Regions from separate parts of the Homo sapiens genome. Here region 2 is linked to region 1. The links come from fine-mapping of genetic effects on gene expression. Tissue or cell type: whole blood. Region 1 holds a variant in brackets; the other region holds the start of a gene. All regions are shown on one strand. Distances are from middle to middle.

Region 1 (5,131 bases):
ATAGTGCCTGGTATGCAGTAGGCACTTAAAAGATGCTTGTCTTATTACTGTAAAAATTTAGAGATGTGATTTAAGGCCTAAAGTTATAATAGTTAAAGGTAGTTATAATTATGGAGCTTTTAAAACCTTTATTTAAAGTAGTTGTGAATCTACTTCTCTGCTATTTGAGTAAATTTGTTATAGAAATGATTATATAATTTTTTGTGATTCTGGGGCTATGAGTTTCTCTTGGTATGAAGTAAGTAAGCCATTATAATATGAGAATAAGGCAGTACTAACAGCTATCAGGATATGTGCATTGTCTTTTAGGCAAGCTCACCACCTGTATACCTTCTCCAATTAATAGAATTTGGAGTTGTTTTTACTGAAAATAATGAAAGATGAGTCTGAAAGCTGAGCATATACATTTGTAGAATTCAAACGGATGCCTGCTATGCTGCTTATGAGTGAGATAATGTAACTGTAGCTATATCCCAGTGAAGGTAAAATATCACTAACAACCACTTGAAATTGTGTTGCTCCATTCTCCTTAAAATATACTTCTATTACTGTGTAGCTGTAGGGGATGATTATAGGAAAAAGTGTCCACTACCCAGATGTCACAAATACTGAAAACAACAAAAGAATTCTTTATTAAATCCTGTATTAATCAAGTTCTCATGATTCAGATGCTTTTTACATGTTCAATAGTTACCCTGCTAACACATATTACAGAGTATCAGACTGTATGGTAATAATTTCACTGTACAATACAAGCTAATTTAGTAGGATTCTATTGATGTATTCAAAACTTGAATATTTTACATGAAAATGTACTTATTCCCTAAAAGAATAAATTTTCTTATAATACCATGTGCATTTGTTGCACAGTCAGCAGTGACTCTTAAGAACCATTAAAGAAATTTCATGGAGTTCCTTTATAATTAGGCAACAAGAATATGTGGTCCTAGGGTGTATTAGTCAGGGTTCTCTAGAAGGACAGAACTAATAGAATATATGTATATATGAAGGGGAGTTCATTAAGCCGAATTGACTCACACAGTCACAAGGTGAAGACTCACCATAGGCCATCTGCAAACTGAGGAGCAGGGAAGCCAGTCTGAGTCCCAAAACCTCAAAAGTAGGGAAGCAGACAGTGCAGCCTCCAGTCTGTGGCCGAAGGCCTGAGAGCCTCTGGCAAACCACTGGTGTAAGTCCAAGAGACCAAAAGCTGAAGAACTTGAAGTCAGATGTTCTTCGAGGGTAGGAAGCATCCAGCATGGGAGATAGATGAAAACTGGAAGACTCAGCAAGGCTGCTCTTTTGTCTTCTTCTGCCTGCTTTATTCTAGCCATTTTGGCAGCTGATTAGATGGTACCACCCAGATTAAGGGTGGGTCTGCCTCTCCCAGGCCACTGACTCAAATCTTAATCTTCTTTGGCAATACCCTCACAGAAACACCCAGGAACATTACTTTGCATCCTTCAGTCCAATCAAGTTGACACTCAGTATTAACCATCGCACAGGACAATCATATGCTTCGGTATTTATAGGTTTGGGTAATCAGTGTAGTGTTTATAAATACATAGTAGTGTAAGTCAGGGGCTTTTGAGTCAGGATGTCAAGTATCTACCTGACAAAAGTGTCAAAGCCTCTACTGCTTTCTAGTTTTGTTACGCATCTTACTTGGTTTCCTCATCTGTGAAGTGAGAATTATAGTAACAGTATTACTATCCATAAGGTAGTGGAAGGATTTAATGAATTAATATATTTAAATCATTTAAAGTGTACCTGGTGCATAAAGGCCCAATAAGGTTTAGATGGTGTAGTTGTTACTGTTCTACAATGTGACATGTCTTAAAGCAAACTATTTTTATAGAACAGTAAAATCAGCTGGGAAAAGAGAGGCTTTGTTTTAAGAACACTAGTATTCCTTTTGCATTTCCACATAGCTATAGAGTGAGAAGATAAGGGGATAATGGCGTTTTGAAGGAAGGAGGGGAGTAAATATAACTTTAAAGATTTTAATTGGATGGGTGAAATTGTTTATATGTTTTAAGTATAGTCAGTAATTGGCCAGGCACAGTGGTTCATACCTGTAATCCCAGCACTTTGGGAGGCCGAGGCGGGTGGATCACCTGAGGTCAGGAGTTTGAGACCAGCCTGACCAACATGGAGAAACCCCATGTCTACTAAAAATACAAAATTAGCTGGGCGTGGTGGCACATGCCTGTAATCGCAGCTACTAGGGAGGCTGAGGCAGGAGAATCGCTTGTACCCAGGAGGCAGAGGTTGCAGTGAGCCGAGATTGCGCCATTGCACTCCAGTCTGGGCAACAAAAGTGAAACTCTGTCTCAAAGAAAAAAAAAAAAGTATAGTCAGTAATTAAATAATTTTTTGAGACTGGACAAAAGTTAAATAAAAGTAAGCTAGTAATTATATTCAATGTCATAGCAGATTTTAAACCACAGCTTTTCAGGTTGCCAGTAAATACCACACAAAAGCAAGAGGAGGCTGGTTGTGCTAGCTTACACTTGTAATCCTAGCACTTTGCGAGGCCAAGGCAGGAGGATCACTTGAGGCCAGGAGTTCAAGACCAGCCTGGGCAACATACTAAGACTCCATTTTTTAAAAAGAAAAAAGGAAAAATTAGCCCAGCATAGTGGCGTGAGCCTGTAGTCCTAGGTACTCAGGGGGCTGAGACATGAGGATTGCTTGAGCCCAGGAGGTTGAAGCTACAGTGAGATGATTGTGCCACTGCACTCCAGCCTGGGCAACAGAGCGAGGAAAAAAAAAAACAACCCA[A/G]AAACAAAACGAGGAATGTAAAAGTGCAGTGCATTTTACAATGTTATGATTAAAGTGAACTCTATCTTAAATTTTATAATAACTGACTTTATTTTACTTACTTATTTAGTTTTTGAGATAGGATCTCCTCTGTCACCCAGGCTGGAATGTAGTGCTCACTCCAGGCTCTGCCTCCTGGACTTAAGTGATCATCCCACTTCAGCCTCCTGAGTAGCTGGGACTACAGATGCGCACTACCATGTCTGGCTAATTTTTGTATTGTTTAATTAATTTATTTTTTTGCTAGAGACAGGGTTTCACCATGTTGCCCAGGCTGGTCTTGAATTACTGGGCTCAAGGGATCAACCCATCTTGGCCTCCCAAAGTGCTGGGATTACAGGCATGAGCCACCATGCCTGGCCTGTACTAAATGAGATTAAAAACTTGCTTTGGGCCAGACATGGCGGCTCATGCTGGTAATACCAGCACTTTGGGAAGTCAAGGCGGGAGGATTGCTTGAGCCCAGGAGTTCGAGACCAGCCTGGGCAATGTAGTAAGACCTTGGGCAATGTAGTAAGACCGTGTCTGTATTTAAAAAAAAAAGAGAGAGAAAAGAAAACTTGTTTTGCTTGCATGTACCAATTGAGAGTATAGTATGTGCTTCAAAGGAAAAAGGTTTAACTGTTGAACAGCTTTAGGAGAAATAACCAAATTGCTTTGTGGGTATTTCATGCACAAAACTAGGAAAGAGAAATGAATATGGGAGGATTCAAGTTACAATAAGACTTTATGCTCCATGAGAGGAAGATATTACATATTACAGAATATTGATTTCAGAAGGCAAAAGATATTTACTACTTATGCTCCATGAGAGGAAGATATTACATATTACAGAATATTGATTTCAGAAGGCAAAAGATATTTACTACTTAGAGTAATTTAGTTAAGAAAAAAGAAAAAATACAGTAAAATGTTAGATAAGATCCAATTAGAGCCTACCAGGCACTCTTGTGAGGTTTGTTACTGCCTTCTGTGGTTTATCAGTAGCTTAGCGGGAACTATAGAAAAATAATTCAGGCTTTATGTCCCAAATCATAACTGTAACTCCCTCCATTCTTCTCCACTTTCAGTAGGTGGAGGAAAGTCTTACTCAGGGAAAATTTAACAATATGGTCATTTCATAATTAGAAAACTTTATTAATACTGGTGTTAGGTGTTTGACCAGACACTTTTAAATTTACCGTGTTCATGGCTTCCTTAATTGAGTACAATATCAGAAGCAGCTGTCTTCATATTAGCCAATAGCCCATAGATCTTTAGTAATTTTGTGCATGATATATTATGGCCATTTCTCTTTATATTATAAAACTGTCATAGAAATGCTTTAATTAGGCTGGGTGCGATGGCTGGTGCCTGTAATCCCAGCCCTTTGGGAGGTTGAAGCAGGAGGATCGCTTGAATCCAAGAGTTTGAAACCAGCCTGGGCAAACATAGCACAACCTAGTCTCTTCCCCCACCAAAAAATAGAAAAATTAGCTGGGCATGGTGGTATGTGTCTGTGGTCCCATCTGCGGGGAAAGCTGAGGTGGGAGGATTGCTTGAGCCCAGGAGGTTGAAGCTCCAGTGAGCCATGACTGCACTGCTGCACTCCAGCCTGGGCAACAGAGCAAGTCCCTATCTCCAAAAAAAAAAAAAAGGAAAAAAAGAAAAAAAATGCTTTTTTTTATTTCAGTGGGTAATAAGCTGTTATTTTGTGTGATGCTCATTTCCTTAAATAATACATTAAATTGTTATTTTTTGCATTTGAAATTGAAAAATGGGAATTTTTCTCTTGAATAAGAAACAGAAATGAATTAAACTTATTACCAATAGTAATCATACTATTCTGAATTTCTCTATAGAGAGCATTATAAATATCTCATACTTTTGCTTTTATATTACGAATTTGTATTGTAGGGTGAAAAAGATACTTTTTAATCTTAAACAGGATATTTTCCTTTGTGTTTTGTGAATTCCCACCCTTGTTTTTGGCAATGTAGATCACTTACGCTAAAGATTTAAAAAGCCATATTTCACTTTAAGAACTTGAGACCAGAGGTTACAAACTGGTGGTGTGGACAGTATTTAAAAATTTTAAAAAATTAATTGCGAACATATAAAAACTGGGAGATTTTATTAAAATTTCAGTGTTAAGCAACTTCTGAAAACTCAGAGCTGGCCACATTGCATGGGACCCGTATTCTTTTTTTTCTTTTTTCTTTTTTTTTTTTTTTTTTGTGATGGAGCCTTGTTCTGTCACCCAGGCTGGAGTACATTGACACGATCTCAGCTCACTGCAACCTCCACTTCCTGGGCTCAAGCGATTCTC
Region 2 (5,146 bases), 380 kb before region 1:
GCACAGGATCAGGCAACTTGGGATCCAAATTCTAACTATACCACTTAATCGCTTTGAATTAAAGCTAGCATGTTAACATGTCTGGTATAGACAGACCCTCAATAAATATTGGATGACAGAATAAATCTCTCTGAGGTTTAATTCTCTTCATCCTTAAAACGAGGGTGGAGAGCTGTTCTAAAATTTAGTACTTTACCCATGATGCTCAATAAATGGTCGCTATTATTGACATAGTGAGTTCTCAATATTTGTTGATTCATGGGTCAAAAACTGTCCTTCAGGTTAAAGGGTTACTTGGCCAGGAATGGGCTGGCAGAAGTGAGACATTCCAGCTCCCTCTGAGGGTCCAGGAGGATTGCCCAGGTCTCTGGGACTATGCGATGGGGTAGATCAGGGCTGGGTTTAAATGTCCAATTTTGCTAAGTACTAATGTAAGAACATACCTGACTTGAACCTGGAGGAGTAGGTAGGGATAGCTGAGGGACAAAGTGGAGGATCTTAAAGTGAACCAGAGTATGAGACCAGCCTTGCCTGAATATCTAGTGATAATCCGGGCAGTTTCGGTATCATTTACCACTTTAATTTGTGTTGAAAAAGCCTTAGCTTGGTAGCTCCAGCCTTCCTTCTGTGCCTCCATCCCCATCATCCAAAACCCAAAAGCATGCTGTTTGTGAAGGAGAGTAACCATATCCTGAGATGACTCCAATGTGAGATGTTTGTGAACTGAAAGTCATAGTGACCGCCGATCTGGAGTGTCACCCTTTCTCTGAGTTATCACTCTTTCTGCAAAGCTGTCCCTAATTCCCTAAATTACTTTCTCTGTGGCATTCCTCAGATTGAGCACTTACTTACCTGGTATTGTGATGACCTGTGTCTCTCCCCTTGACCGGATTGTGACATCCAAGGCAGGAACCTTGCCTGGTTGATTATGGCGTATTCTTGGACTCTAGCACATGCCTGGAGCATACAGTAAGTAGCTATTCAATAATTATTTGTTGGCCGGGTGCGGTGGCTCATGCCTGTAATCCCAGTACTTTTGGAGGCCGAGGCAGGTGGATCACCTGAAGTCAGGAGTTCAAGACCAGCTTGGGCAACATGGTGAAACCTCGTCTCTACTAAAAATACAAAAATTAGCCGGGCATGGTGGTACATGTCTGTAATCCCAGCTACTCAGGAGGCTGAGGCAGGAGAATCGCTTGAACCCGGGAGGTGGAGGTTGCAGTGAGCTGAGATTGTGCCACTGCACTCCAGCCTGGGCCACAGAGAGAGACTCCATCTCAAAAATAAGTAAATAAATAAAATAATTATTTGTTGAATAACTGAATGGATGTAATCTGAGGTGACAGAGTGACCCACTGTGATCTGAGATAATGTGACCTCTCTTGATTGCAATCTGGGTTGACTGTGAACAGAGTCGGGGCTTTTGATGATTGTGTTGAAGTGTCTGTGATTGTAACCTACAAGGACTGTGATCTGAGGGGTCTGCGCACCGGTGACTGTGGCCTTCAGGCACTAATCTGTCATAAGGACCAGTAGGGATAATGAATGGAGGTGACTGAACTAGTAACCTTGCATGATCGATTGAAGTAACTTGCACTGATTGTGATCTGAAGTGACCGTGAACAAGTTAGTGACGACGCTTTCCACGACTGTCTTGTTGTGACTGTGCTCATGATCTACAGAGTTCTGGCTTCAGATGACCTAAGCCAGTGCTTGGAGCAGCCTTGACGATTGACATGAGATGTGTGCGAGATGCTGAGATTGTTGATCTACCCTGACAGCTGAGGTTATTGATCTGCATTATGAGCTGAGATAACAGATCTGTGGGCCTGGACTCAGACTAGGAATGGTGCTAATATGTGTGTAGTTCTCTTAAGATTTCTGATTTTGTTTTAATATCCTCCCAAATGGCACAGCCCTGTTCGGCCCCACGCCAACAAGGAATAGGGATGAGGACCAGGTTGAGTCAATCCTCACAGAAAACTACCGGAAACACAACGCATCTTCTGGGCCGCGCTGCCGCAGCTGCGGGCAGACCCACCGCCTTGGTCATGGCCTCCTGCACAGCCTGCCCTTCGTTCGGACCCCCTAGCCCTACCCCCACGATCGGTCCGTGGTGCGCCTGCGCGGAGGCGGGGCGGTGCTTTGCCCTTTGTTGTGGGCCCCAGTTTCCCAGGACACCGCGCGGCGCTGGGGTGGGGCTATGCAGATGAGGCACTCGGGGGCGGGGCGGCGGCGGCGGCGGCGGCGGTGGCGGCCGGGGAGGGTCAGTTGGAGGCAGGCGCTCGCTGAGGCAAAAGGAGGCGCTCGGCCCGCGGCCTGACAGGGACTTAGCCCGCAGAGATCGACCCCGCGCGCGTGACCCCACACCCACCCACTCATCCATCTATCCACTCCCTGCGCCGCCTCCTCCCACCCTGAGCAGAGCCGCCGAGGATGATAAACACCCAGGACAGGTAACGGCCCGGCCCAGGCTCCCCGCCCCCATCCTCCCTCATCTGCTCCAGAGGGCCTCTCACGTACCCCTAGCCGGCCCCCGCCCCCCGCAGCGGGGCCATCCGCCCCCAGCCAGGTCCGTTCACCACTTCAGCCACCCTAGTCCGGTCCTCAGCCCTGCAACTGGGCCTTCTTCTGTCCTTTAGCCCCCTCTTCAGCCGGGCCCATCCCCCTCATCCGGGCCTTCTCCTCCCCTAAAGCCCCCAAAAGCCGGAACCCAACCTTCCAAGCAAGTCCCCTTTTTTCTTTCAGCCCCACCGAATTGTGCCCCATTCCCCAAACTGGGCTTTCCCCGGCATCCAGATTCCCCAAATTGTTTCCTGTCTTCCTCAAATCTTTCTTACTCCCCTTATAAGTCACTTCACCCTTCCCTTTGAATTCCCTCCCTGATGAAAACTGCACCCCCCACCCAGACTCTTCTCATATCACTGCCCCCCGCAAAGTCAACCTCCATCCTTCAGTTCTCAGTTTACCCCCACTCATCACCCTCCCCCCATTCTCTTCAGGCCTAGCAGTCCTTACACAGATGTCCAGCCTCTTCCTCCTGGTCCCATACTTCAGCTTCATCTTTCCCCCACCTTCCCCTCTCCACACCCCTCTCCCAGTTAGGCCCCATTTTCCCAGTCTCCCAGCGCCATTCCTTTTATTTATCAAACACCAGGTTTGATTCTTGTGCTCCATCCTGTTGCCCCAATGGTATACCCCCAACACTCTTGGAAACATTCTTACCCTCTAAACATCTTTTCTCAGCTGGAACTCATCCTTCTCCTTCCCCTCTTAACTGAATCCCGTCTTTGGATCATTAGATCACAGGACCCAGCCATCTCGCTTCCAGTGAACCTTCCCCCTGTACCTCCAGTGCCTTCAAACCAAGCTCTATATTCTGGACACTAGATCTTTGCAATTTCCTCCCTCAAAACCCGACCCTAGTCTTCCCCCATTAATTAGAGAAAGGCTGCACATCTTTCTCAGACCGAGCACCCTGGTTTTCCAAACTTGCATGGTATATCCTTCCCCCTGCAGATAGTTCCTCAATTTTCCTTTCTCTACATGCCTCTCTTTCTCCAAGACAACCCTTCTCACCTATCTCTCCCTCAAATTTTAATATATCCCATATTTCTGCCTCTGTTCTCTGAAACTGTTCCACAATTTCCTAATTCCCCGGAATTTTTAATCCTAGTTGCTCCTTATACATCAGAATGGCTTTCATTTACAATTTGGACCTAATTCTCTTCCTCATTTTTTCCCCAAACTTGTTGCTGTCCTGTCCAAACCGTGTCTGAAGCTCATTAGTTCCCCACACCAGACCTTTTGTCCCCAGATTTGGCCTTATGGCCTCTGCCTCTCACTTGGGCCTCATTATTTTGCAAGCAGATCCATTCCCTGTAAATCTTCCTTAAATTGGGCCATGTTCTATTCAGAATTAGACTAGTTCCTCTCAAATGCATTGCCTTCTTTATTGCTTTTCTTTGCATAGAGCCCTCTAACTGCCACTCAGGATTCCTCTCAAACTTGGGCACTCTTCTTACTGAAATAGTCTCTCAACTTTCCTTTCCCACTTGTTAACAGCACCAGCCTTAAATATTCCAACTGGGTTTTCAGCTTTTCTTGTATTTCAGTGTTTCTTACCCTGGCTTCACATTTGAGAAATCAGTCACTTGGGCCTTACCTTCAAAGATTGGTCTCATTGGCCTAGAGTGTCCTGATTATTAGCATATAGTTTTAAAGCTCCCCAGGTAATTCTTTATAATGCAAAGCTGGGGTTAAAAACCACAGCTTCCTTCCTGCAGCTTTTCCCATCCTATTCCTGTAGTGGGTGTCAGCCCTTTTCTACTGACAAAGGCCTAATTTTCTTCGAGGAATATTTTTTTTTTTTTTTTTTTTTGAGACAGGGTCTCACTCTGTGGCGCAGGCTGGAGTGCAGTGGTGCGATCTGGGCTCACTGCAACCTCTGCCTCCTGGGCTCAATTTCTTCAGGGATTTCTTAGTCTTTCTCTCTCAGGTGCTGTCCAGAAGTGCCCAAGATACAATACCTGCAACAGCTTCTGAAGTTCCTGTCTGTACTCAGTTCTCAGCCATTGGCCATTTTCTTCCCCCAAGTCTCAGACTCTTAACTGGTGCCCTCCCCCTCATTTCTTCTTTGCATGCAGGAAGAAAATTCACTCGCCGTTTGATAATTTGTTATGGTCTTATTTGACCTGTTATCCCTGCCTCCCATGTTCTCTTTACCCTACAACCCATCAGCTGTTAGAGTTTCCTTTTCCAAGACTCTCCATGTCCATCCCCTCTGCATTCCCCCCTTTCACTCCATCTTCTGTAACCCAGCCCCTCGGGAGCTGAGGAGGTGGAGGCGGATATAGACACGGAGAGTGCTGGATGCAAAGGTGTTACTTGTGGCAAAGGCGCCGTGTGTGCTGAGGATAGATGGCAGGTATGAGAGAGGGCAGGATGAAGCACAGGGGTGGAGGGGAGCAGAGAGACCTACAACAAAACCCACTCAAGGGGTATGTGAGATAGACTTTTTTTTCTGTTCTTTTTGTGTGTCTGTAGTGGGGGTTGGAAAGTGGGGTGGTCTCAGCAGTCATTCTCTGGAGTCCTCTGGACTGAGCTGGTCGAAATGCCGAGTCTTTTGTAGGCTGAGCCCTGAGAG

What was found. PIP is the estimated chance that this variant, and not a neighbour inherited with it, causes the effect.
Region 2: OAZ2 starts here. The variant in region 1 is fine-mapped to the expression of OAZ2 in whole blood (INTERVAL, PIP 0.98).

What each region holds. Positions count from the first base shown.
Region 1 is chr15:64,320,587-64,325,717 of GRCh38, reverse strand. All of the region lies in intron 1 of CSNK1G1 (casein kinase 1 gamma 1), which reads left to right. Among named protein-coding and RNA genes, the nearest start is that of CSNK1G1, 33 kb to the left of the region's middle. The variant A/G (reference allele first, on the strand shown) is at 2,785.
Region 2 is chr15:64,700,339-64,705,484 of GRCh38, reverse strand. It overlaps OAZ2 (ornithine decarboxylase antizyme 2), which reads left to right and starts at 2,204. Exons shown (of 5, transcript NM_002537.3): 1 at 2,204-2,456. The coding sequence starts at 2,437. It overlaps LOC124903507 (a long non-coding RNA gene), which reads right to left and starts at 942. Exons shown (of 3, transcript XR_007064679.1): 1 at 853-942. RefSeq lists silencers at 2,069-2,388, 2,399-2,618 and enhancers at 4,247-5,084, 5,085-5,146.